2 separate regions of the Homo sapiens genome follow, and region 2 is linked to region 1. Evidence: fine-mapped expression QTL. A gene starts in region 1. The other region holds a variant in brackets. All regions are shown on one strand. Distances are from middle to middle.

The links. PIP is the estimated chance that this variant, and not a neighbour inherited with it, causes the effect. A credible set is the group of variants that fine-mapping cannot tell apart.
Region 2: its variant is the best candidate, but not a certain one, in a credible set for the expression of PTPRD-DT in prefrontal cortex (ROSMAP, PIP 0.85).

What each region holds. Positions count from the first base shown.
Region 1 is chr9:10,610,298-10,615,684 of GRCh38, reverse strand. It overlaps PTPRD-DT (PTPRD divergent transcript), which reads right to left and starts at 2,479. Exons shown (of 3, transcript NR_110696.1): 1 at 2,259-2,479. It overlaps PTPRD (protein tyrosine phosphatase receptor type D), which reads left to right and starts at 2,683. Exons shown (of 46, transcript NM_002839.4): 1 at 2,683-2,997; 2 at 3,180-3,287. RefSeq lists a silencer at 2,529-2,738.
Region 2 is chr9:10,638,600-10,643,986 of GRCh38, reverse strand. No RefSeq gene overlaps it. Among named protein-coding and RNA genes, the nearest start is that of PTPRD-DT, 28 kb to the right of the region's middle. The variant TAAA/A (reference allele first, on the strand shown) is at 3,106.

The DNA of each region.
Region 1 (5,387 bases):
TGATTTTTAAGAGTAAATATATGGCAATAACTTAAAGCGGACATTTGCATCTGCCTTTTTATTGAAGAAGGAGAAATAAATTATAATGTTACAGGAAGTGTAGCTAGGTAGTTAGATAATAAAATTTTCTTAACTCCTTAAGCTTGGTGCAATCACCTTCAAGTAAGATATCTCAATCCAATTCTCAGATGTAATTAATAATAAAATCTCTACAATAAGCTAATCCATTGAACATTTGTGATATTATTATGTGGGGAGGAGGTAGGAGGAAGGGGATTGAGTATAACACTGATTCTTCCATTGTTTAAAATATTCTTTGTTTTCCAGAGGACACCAAAGGATAGTTGTACAGGAGCAAGAGTAAATCAGCCCCAGGGAGCACTGTCTCTGTGAGATCCCAGCCTGGAGCTGAAGTAGAGAAGAGTTTCAAGTTGCTGAACACCCCCATGCAGCAGTAAAAAGATATAAGATATCGACACGCTCAGCTGCATCTTGTTAAAAGCTTCCTGCGGGTTGGCAGAATGAAATCTTTACTTAAAACACACAAACTATTGTCAAGGGAAAGATGGAAAAGAGAATACAGTAAAAGGGCCAAATGCTTTGCTTAACCCACCAGAAGCAGTAGAAAGGGAGAGGTGGTCACGTTGTCTTTGCAACAACAACAACAGAAAAGGTGACTAACACAACCACATCAGCCTCCATCTGCTCTTCCCATGGTTTCAAGATGCATTATTTCTTTTATTATTAATTACTTGTGTTTCTGAGGGAGGACAAATATATTATTGTGACTAGCAAGAGAGGAAATCATTTCTGCTTCTACTTGGCATTAAGTACAGTAGTGTATGTAATGACTGAGGGATGGCAGGAAACAGAGCGGCATCATTGAGACCAGCCTCCCTCCTACCAATCCACTCCAACTCGCCCTTGGTAGTCAGAGGCTGCCTAACAGAAAGTTCATGTAAAACCATTATTGAACACTGACAGGAAGGAACTGAGACAGGAGTGAGTGGTGTGTATTTGTGCAGAAAGGGAGAAGGAGGGAGGGAGAGAGAGAGAATATGAGTCAGTCATCATCATCTTGGGGAGACAGCACCGTAAGAGGGGCAAGTGCTTTGTATAATTACAAAAATATGTACACATGCACACACACTTGCACATATGGTGTAATTTTTTTTCGTTCATATCTTGTCATTTCCAAGAACCTTTTTAAGTGATGATGACTGTTTGTGCATGGGAACCTTCTTGGATGGGTAGGCTCCGTGGCTTTAGGGAGGCTGAGCAGGGAACCCGGCAGCGCGTGGGTTCAGGAGAAGGGTCCCTTTTAAAGAGCAAAGGGACACAGCAAGCAGTGGAGAAGGTATGAAAAGAAAAAGGTGAAGGGACCCTGGGGAAAATTCCACCTATAGTGACTAAGCTTTATTTCTCTTCGGGAGAAAGTGACATTTCTGCGATTAGATCATTGACATATAAGGAAAGTAGATGGATAACTGGTTTTTCGTTGTTCTTTTTTTATTTGTTTTCTTCTACAGTGCTTACAGAACCTTTGACCAGATGGTACCTGGAATGCTCTGTGTTGCATATTACAAACAGGATAATTATTTTGGCTTTTTAGAAAACGCACCGACATGGTGACATTGCTCTCTGTTTATCAAGAGACAGAGCATTTGTTGCCTATAGCTGTATGCTCTGATGAGACATGAAAGATAGTAAAATGACAAAAAGCTTCCTGCTGTTTTTCTCTCATCCTGCCCCTTCTTCTCCCCCCAGCTCCAAACCTTATTTCTAGTTTCGCTGGGGGTCTAAGTTCCTCCTCCCCTGTCTCCCGAGTCTGTGGTACACCACATCTGATGCACTCCGATACCCCACTCTACCTTGGGGTAAGGAGGAGGTGGGGAAGAATCCGCTCCCTGCATCCATGTCCTCTCCTCTGCAGCGAGGCATATTCTCAGCAACTCTTGTACAGGTTTTCCCTTCTCAGCTACCACCTTGGCAGAGCTCTATCCCTCCCTCAAGCCCAGCCAGACTGCCAAGCGCCCCGACTGAAAACTCCATCCAGCTCAGCCGAAGTACACCCCCTCCGCCAAGCAACCCCTGTGCCCCTGCCCTTCACCTCCCTAAGTCTGCTCTTCATAAGCATCGATTCCATTGCAAATCAAATGTACGTCCCCCAGCTATTAACACCCACTACCCCTTAGGTGTTACCGACAGCCTCCCTCGGAAAATAATAATAATAATAATAACCGAAAGCACGCGAACACCTGAAGAAGCACAGATCGGGATCCGCATCTGGACCAGTCCTCTGTGGCTATAGTGATGGGGAATAGCCTGTGCCTGACATATCCTCCTGTTCCCGCGCGAACCGCTTTACCCTGGATCCCTGGAATCGTGCCTAGGCACCCGGGCGGCGGGGTCCGCCCAGGCCGCGTCAGGCAGCTCTGGGCCGGTGGGTGCCGGGTCTCCCCTCCTCCCGCCCCATCTGGCGCGCCCGCAGCGCCGCCGCCGCCGCCGCTTCTCTCCCCAGCGGGCGCTCGGAGCATCCCGCGCCGCGTTCTCCCCGCCCCGGCCCCCGCCCGCCGGAGCGGGGCCCACGCCGCTGGCAGCCATCAAGTGGCTCGTTAAGGAAATGCAGGTGAGTGCGTGAGGCCGAGCGGCAGCTGCTGGAGACGTGGGGTGTGTGCCTGTGAGTGCGAGCGAGACGAGGAGGGAGCGCCAGCGAGCGAGCGAGCGAGTGCGGGAGCGGCCGCCTCGGCTCCCCGCCCAGCCGCGCCCGCAGCCGGCGGCCGGAGCGCGTGGGGGCAGCGCCTCGCCCCGACAGAGCCTCGCCTCCTCCTTGCCGTCTCGGCTGCTTCTCCGAGGAGCCGGGAGCCGCTCATCGGCCTCCCCAACCCTGCGCTCCCCTCCCAGCCCGAGTCCTCCCGCTGCTCTTTCTCCTCCTCCTCCCGAGCCTCCTCCCCTCCGGCGCGGCGCCGCCAGCCAGCCTCGGCGGGGAGAGTGCAGGTACTTTGCCTTCAGAATAATTAGCAGGACCCAAGCCGGCTTTCCGAGCGCGCTTTCTTTTTCTTCCTTTGCCCCCTCCCTCCGGAAAAGAAGATCCCACTTTTGAAACAATCAGAAATCGAAGCACCCCACCAAAGCCAAACCCTGACGGGCTGCTGTGCATGTGCCATCCCTTTTTGCAGTTTATTCTGGGCCTGTGTGGAATAGAAAGACAATTCTTTATTTGACTGGTAGGAAAGAAAAGAGAAGACTCCTCAGGGTTTCCAAGGAGGACTGGAGCGGCTGCTTTAGTAAGTAAACTGTGCTTCTGTCTTTCTTTTCTCTAAAGTGAAGCATATGCTGATGCTTTTCAATGCCCAATGTCCAATGCTGTGGACAGTTTATTCATTTTACCTGGGAATAACTTGACTTATATAACTTCAGTAGCTCCTATTTGAGAAGTGGTTCGCTAAGCATTTTTTTCTTTTTTTTTTTTTTTTGGAAGAGCCCTTAGAAGACTTCGATATGGGATCAGTATGGGCAGCCTTACTGGAAAACTGATTTTTAAACGTTTATTGTTCAAGGGCTATTGGAAGCCTGCTTTGTTAAACATTGGTTGGTTCTAAGATTTAAGGGTGGTTATCTAGAAAAAGCTTGAAAAATCTAACCCTACTGGCTCACTTCTCCTGCCACCTTCAACCTCAGCCCTAATCCATGCTAACTCCCACCCTACTCTGACTTCAGTTGGTTGGTTGTTTTATCTTTAGTTCTGAAAAGCTCTAGAAAAAAAAAGGGGGGGGGGGCGGAAAAGGGAAAGTTAATAAGGATGGTTTGAAAGACCAGATGAAAATTCTGTTGCGATTTCTTCATGCCTGTAAGGAGATAATAATTGGAGGAAAATCCTGGAACTAGAATAGTTGGAGAATTAGAATGAACTTAATTTGGAGAGAGAATGTGAAAAATACTTTGGAGAGGGCAGGGCTGAGACTGTGACTTTGACACAGCGGGTTATAAACTCTGACAGGGCTCAGCAGCCAGTGACAGGTTTAAGGTGTCTCCTAAGGCTGAATATCTCTGCATCAAAAACTTTTGCAGGCAGTATTCCTCTTGGGGCTAACATCACCATGTCAGTAGCTGTAGCATTTCTTTTTACAGAAGTAGGACACTCTTCTTTCTACAAAAGGGTTAATAAGTTCATTATACATATATATAAAAAACATGTAGTCTAACATTTGCCAATATTTTGTAATATCTAAATAAAACCTTTGTGTTATGTCAGGAAAAATATAGTTGACTCAGTTTGTTTTGCACAAGAGGGAGAGAATCAATAACATTTCAGCATTTTTTTCTTTATCACTGCCAAATGGATTCTGAATCTAATTCTTCTTGCATTGTTACATATACAGTAGATACAGTAGGAGTTGCAACTTAGACAAAACAGACCTGATTTTTAACAAATCCTAAGTTTTTTGACATGGTAGTACTTATACTGACTAGAGTCTAATAGTGATTAGAAAAAGTTTATCCCTTTTATCTTTAACTGTTAATTTCTTTCTCAGTATAATACATACTTTTTAATAAAAACCCCTTATAAGTTAAAAACCAGATTGAAAAGTAAAAGTACTTATCTCAGAGAATTTCTTTCAATAAAGCAGCTTATTATTAATTATACCTAAGGGCTTCCTTGTATTTAATTGTTGATAATGGTAGAATGAGTATATTTTTACCTCCTTATTTACTTAAGTGAGTATATAAAAGCATCTGTATTCATGGGGGATTGGTTTTAGAAATTATAAGAGTAAGCTAAGTTACAATTATTACAAAAAAGTAGAGATGTTTTAGAGTTGTTTTGATTACTCAGTGTTGAAAGCTCTAAATATCTTGGGCCATAAGTTTTTAGGGTAATGAGACAGGACAATAGAACAGTTAATGAATTGGTTGACATGAAGTTATCATATATGGAATCATTTGAGAAAGATGTGTCATTGTTTCTTGATTATTATTTAATTTCTTATCCAAATGAGTTTTCTTAGACATATTACTGCTCTTAGCTAACATTTCTATTATTGGTTTAAAAATGAATTTAAGTGATTTAAAATGAAGCCCTTGGCTGATCAGATTTGGATTATAGCACATAACCTCTACTCATTTCTGACCTCACATGTCCGAGAGGCTATCTGATATTTGGAAAAAAAAAAACTTAATTATTGAAAAATAAAGGGGAAGATTGTACCTAAGTAGGGCAAATTTAACAGTGGTTCAAACATGTTATTACATATATTAGTATAGGACATATTTTACACAGTAGAGAAGACATGACAGATTTGTGCATTCTTTTTGAATTTCTGAAAGCAAATATTTGTAAGTAACATTAAAACTAACCTGACATACATTCTGCCTCTGTTGTAATT
Region 2 (5,387 bases), 28 kb before region 1:
AAATGGTTTAAGTTTAGTATGAATGTGTGTTCTTTCCCCTAATTTATTTCAAGTTACCAAAATTCTGGCAGACTAATAATATGTTTTGATACAGAACTTTTGGATTTAATATTTTTTTACTTGGCTCTAAAGGATCAGATGGATGGTTAGCCTGGCAATGCTGGTGGGTGTTTTACTAGAATTATCATGACCTTCTTCAGATGTGTGTTGGAAATGGTCTTTGGGTAAATGATTACTAAGGTGGCATAGCTAATATTAAAGTGGAGTGCCAAAAATTGAACACTTGAGCTTTATAAGCCACTTAATGAATAAATTGCAACACATTATATTAACCTAACAAAGTAATTGTTAATCGGTTTAATTTTAAGAAATCAGTCTTTGTCTATGCTGTCTTCTCTGATATGTGTGTATCTTAAAAAAAAAAGCTGCAATAAGGATAAAGGATTTATAATGGACAGCATTTCAAGATACTTTTCATGGAACAAAACCATCTGGATAATTTTTATCTTATAAAATTTCATTTAAAAACAACAACAAAAGCCCCTAACATGCCATTACTTCTTTTATGTATTTGCTTTCAATACAATTTGTATTTATTTTCAGAACTGTTAGGAACGAAATGTGTTTTTTTCCTTCATAAATAAGATATACGCTATAAGCACCATCGAAATGCACAAAGCCAATTAACTCTGTTTCAGAGCTACAGTAAAAATGCTGCATTTTGCTTCTTATATATAGCAATAAGAAAATATTTTTTCCTTCATCAACGTTCAAAGTTGTATCAAAGCAGTGTTGCTTTTTTGTGGAATAGAAAAAGCACTGACCTTCATGACTGCATTTCCACATATTAGCAAAATGACCTTGGACTTGTCACTTAAACTTTACGAGTCCCGGTTTTCTTCTGTATAAAAGAGGGATAATAACTGGCCCTTTAACTACTGGATTATTGAGAATGTCAAATGACATAATGGATATTAAATCGCTCTTAAAATTAAAGCCATATTGTGATTGTTATTATTACAGCTCTCTTTGTGTTTTTTATAAGCCTTTAATAAAAAGATGTACTTTAGTAACCACTTAAATTATGTTACTATAGATGATAGAAAAGTTATGTATAAGAATAGCTAAAATAATCATTTACAATGTTGACATCAATTCTGAACTGATATTATCGGGCAAGTAAAAAGCTTAAGAGAACATTTAAGGTTACCTGACAAAACAGGAATTATTATATAATATAAGATGTTTTATTCATGTTAGTTGAGCAATGTTGAACAAGTTAAAAGTGACATTTAAACCAGAGTGGAGGAGTTAAGTGTGAATCAAACTTGTATTTGCCAAAATAGGTACCTGGTATTCTTACAGATTTTGTGGATAAAAATAATTTTAAAAGTTTATTCACACTAGATGTATTTTTCTTCATGTAAGACCCATATTTTAAAGGCTATTACTATAACAATTTTTTGTACTGAGTTTATTCGACATTAGTGTTATGAAGAAATTTTAGAAAATCTGGAAACCCTCTATTGATGAGAAACTGTAGTTATTAGGAAAAATAGTGGAAAAATAATGAGGTTCAAAATTAAGTGACATTTTGAAAAGACCAATATGAAGAAAAGGAAGAATTGCAAGATGGAAATTAATGTAACCTTTATTTAAATTTAGATTAAGGCTAAAAAACCTGAGTATCTTAGCTGACTGTAAGTCTAAGCTATAAACCAGAGCAAATTTTAGATTTGGAAATCATATTGCTGAAAGATTTGTTTGAAATATGCTTCTTCTTCAGTTATTTAAAGTCCAACAGTGTGTTTGTTTCAGATAAATGAATCTAAAAGATTTCCTTTACTAAATTCTAAAAAAAGAAAACAAAAGAAAAGAAGAAATTCCCAGAGGAAATTTAGGTATCCAGTTTAGATAGTCTGAATATGATGGATATTAAAACGCTATCGACCTAGGAGTCAATAACTCGACGAAACAAAATTAATTCTACTTTCACATCCTTACAACTTCAGTCCCTTTGAAGGAAAAAGAAAATCAGTGTAAAGTTTTGTTTGATTAGGAATGTGTACTTTATGTGTCCTTTCAAAATGTGACTTATTTTCAAGTATCTTTGTTCAAAATAGTTTCATTGTAGGGGGAGGGGATTAGCAAACTGATGCTTCCTTTCTCATGCTCAATAAATATTTATTTGTATTTCATGATTATATTGACAGAGTAAACACAAACCATAATATACTAAACAACTGGTCCTTTTGCCTTCCTTTTAATGGGCTTAAAAAATGAGTTTAATATGCATAATACCAATAATCATCTTTATTTAGCTTTATCTCTGTTACTTTTGACTAGAGAAGAAGTAAATGCAACGTAAAAAATATAGTTTTTTTGCTTCTGTTCTACAGACATTTAACAAATCAAAAAGGTATATTTTCAATTAATATAAAATCATTGATTTGGGGTCCTAAAATACAAGTTTAAATGTTTTTCTTGCCATTTGAAATTTATAATTTAAGAAAATTACCTACCTCTTATTTTAATTATCTGCAAAATGCGGCTAGTGACCTACCTCACAAAGTTATTGCAAATTTTAAACCAAAAGCAGCTTATGAAATGCTATTGTGCCCATTGTATATAGTGATATAAATGCTAGTTGTTATAATATTGCTGTTAGGTGGGTACAAAAATAATTGGACATGACAAATGCAAAGAAGAAGAAGGAAAACCAGTCTAACACAGATAGAATCCATCTGTTCTGATATCTTGATTTAACGGGATTATGTCAGCCCAACTCCAGCGAAGGATGAAAATAAAGGCATAAATAGGGAGAACTGTGTGGACATACTTTAGAACAACCGAAACAAGAAGGTTAATTTATTGGTATTCGATAAAAACGTACTAGTGAGCTGAGAACACCATCTGAGAAGGATCAGCGTGGGGTCGGGGGAGGGGGGAGGGATAGCATTAGGAGATATATCTAATGTGAATGATGAGTTAATGGGTGCAGCACACCAACATGGCACATGTATACATATGCAACAAACCTGCATGTTGTGCACATGTACCCTAGAACTCAAAGTATAATAATAATAATAATAATAATAATAATAA[TAAA/A]CAGCTCCCACTCATCTCTCCTGTCAATGAACATCTGCTTACTATGTTAATGGTTAATCTAAACTTCAGCCTCTTCAAGAAGGCACACACACCCCCCTCCTCACAGCCCATTAAATCTCAGTATCCAAAGCTCTGTTTGTGGCAGGAAACATGGAAAGCAGTTTGAGTATGTTCTCTTTCTTTTTAGGTGGCAAAAGAAACTTCAGGGATTCCCTTGTTGGCACAGCCATGCTCTGCATTTGAAACTGAAGGGTAGCAGAATATGTTCCTCAAAATACGCAAATTTGATATAAGGATTACTTTGACCTAAAGGCACCTGAAAAAGATCAAATGCAAAAAGGGCATTCTAATCCCTCCTTTCTTCCTGAAACCTGGAGATAAAAACTCTCAAGTGAAAGATGCTCTCCCTGTACCAGAAGAAAAGAAACATTCTTTCCTGGGGAGTCATCTATGAGAGAATCTGTAAAGATAGTGTTAAAGTAATTTTTTTCTTCCTTTAGTGTCCCCAGATAATACAATTACTTTTAAACAATTGTCTCTCTTTGTCCAAACTAATATAAAACCTTTAGGTTTTGCCACTTCTTTGAATCTTTATTTCCTTATGAGTCTTTCCATGTGATATGGCTTGGGACTGTGTCCCCACCTAAATCTCATATCAGATTGTAATCCCCAGTGTTGGAAGAGGGGCCTGGTGAGAGGTGATTGGATCATAGAAATCCCCCTTGCTATTCTTGTAATATTGAATGAGTTCTCACAAGATCTGGTTGTCTATAAAAGTGTGTAGCACTTTCCCCTTCTCTCTCTCTTCCTTCTGCTCGGGCCATGTAAAATGTGCCTCCTTCCTCTGTACCTTCCACCATGACTGTAAGTTTTCTGAGGCTTCCTCAGGCATGCTTCCTGTACAGCATGCAGAACTGTGAGCCAATTAAACCTCTTTTTTTTTCTTTTTATAAATTACGTAGTGTCAGGTGGTTCTTTATAACAATGCAAGAACAGACTAATACGTTTTATCACATAATGCTCATATTAAATTGTATGCTTTTCTCATGTTGCTCTAGCTTATGTCAATTTAATTCTCAGGCCCAGTCAGGACCCTACAAGAGTAGAAGTAAAGTTTTGCCTCCCCTATAGAACAAGTGGAAGACTGGTTGCTGTACATTGTAATAATGTTACAGATAATAGTACTGACAGAGAGTATGGTTAGTGTGTTGTAGGGCTTACCTGGACTCGCAGGGGCTGAATTCTGACAAGATGATGTCCTATTTAAGTCAGTGAAATTTGAGCAGTAGGATCTTGCCTCATCAGTAATATTGTGCATTTTTCCAGATAATCTCAATGTCTCATTCAAAGGGGCTTGGGATTTTGTGACGATACCAATACAATTTGATGAAAGCTGCTTATTATGTTCTCGGAAATGGGAACAACAATGTACACTTCAGCCTTGTGCTATATAAACCAAAATAGATGTGCAATGGCTTCTTCTATCACTATCTATTCCTTTCCTATCAGAGAACCCAGGTAACATGTAACTTAGGTGGCTAAGCACACGGCCTTGCTTTTTCTGGTTCACTATTGTGCCTCTTGATTCTCTTGCCTCATGTAATCTTTACTGAATTGCTTGGTTCTTGTTTCACTAAAATTACTTTAAAGTCTTAATCTTTGTTTATGCTCTTACTCAGAAAACAATATTAACATTTAAAGTCTTTATTAATGTATTTCTGCAGACATTTTGGCTCCCTTTCAATTGACCGTTGCTGAGCAGTGCTGCAGATTTCAGACTCTAACCTACACCCTGTCAATCTTTGTTTTCTTGAATAAATTACAGTCTCTCCAGGAGTGATCTTTTGAGGTGCTTTAGCCATGTATGTGGCATTTAAAGACAGACCCATGTTGGCACAGTAAGATCTGTTCAATTAATACCTGTTGAAAATCTGCTATATGCCAAGCATATCAGAGAAGGAAACAGAAAAAAAAATTGCCTTATTGGAGTTCATGTTCTAATGAGGAATAGACATAAGCAAATAATTAATAAGAATATATGCAGACAGCAATAAGGCAATGGAGAATAATAAAGCAGAGGAAAAGGATGTGCCAAGGGGCCACAATCTAAATAGTTTGGTCAGAGAAGACTTCACTGCTAAATGGATGCTGTGCAAGGCCTGAAGGACGTGATACAGAAAGACAGGGGGATATGTGCGAATAAGTATCCCAGGCAGAGGAAATAGAATGAACAACATCTCAGAGATGGGAGCATACTCAATATCCAGAGAAATTAAAAG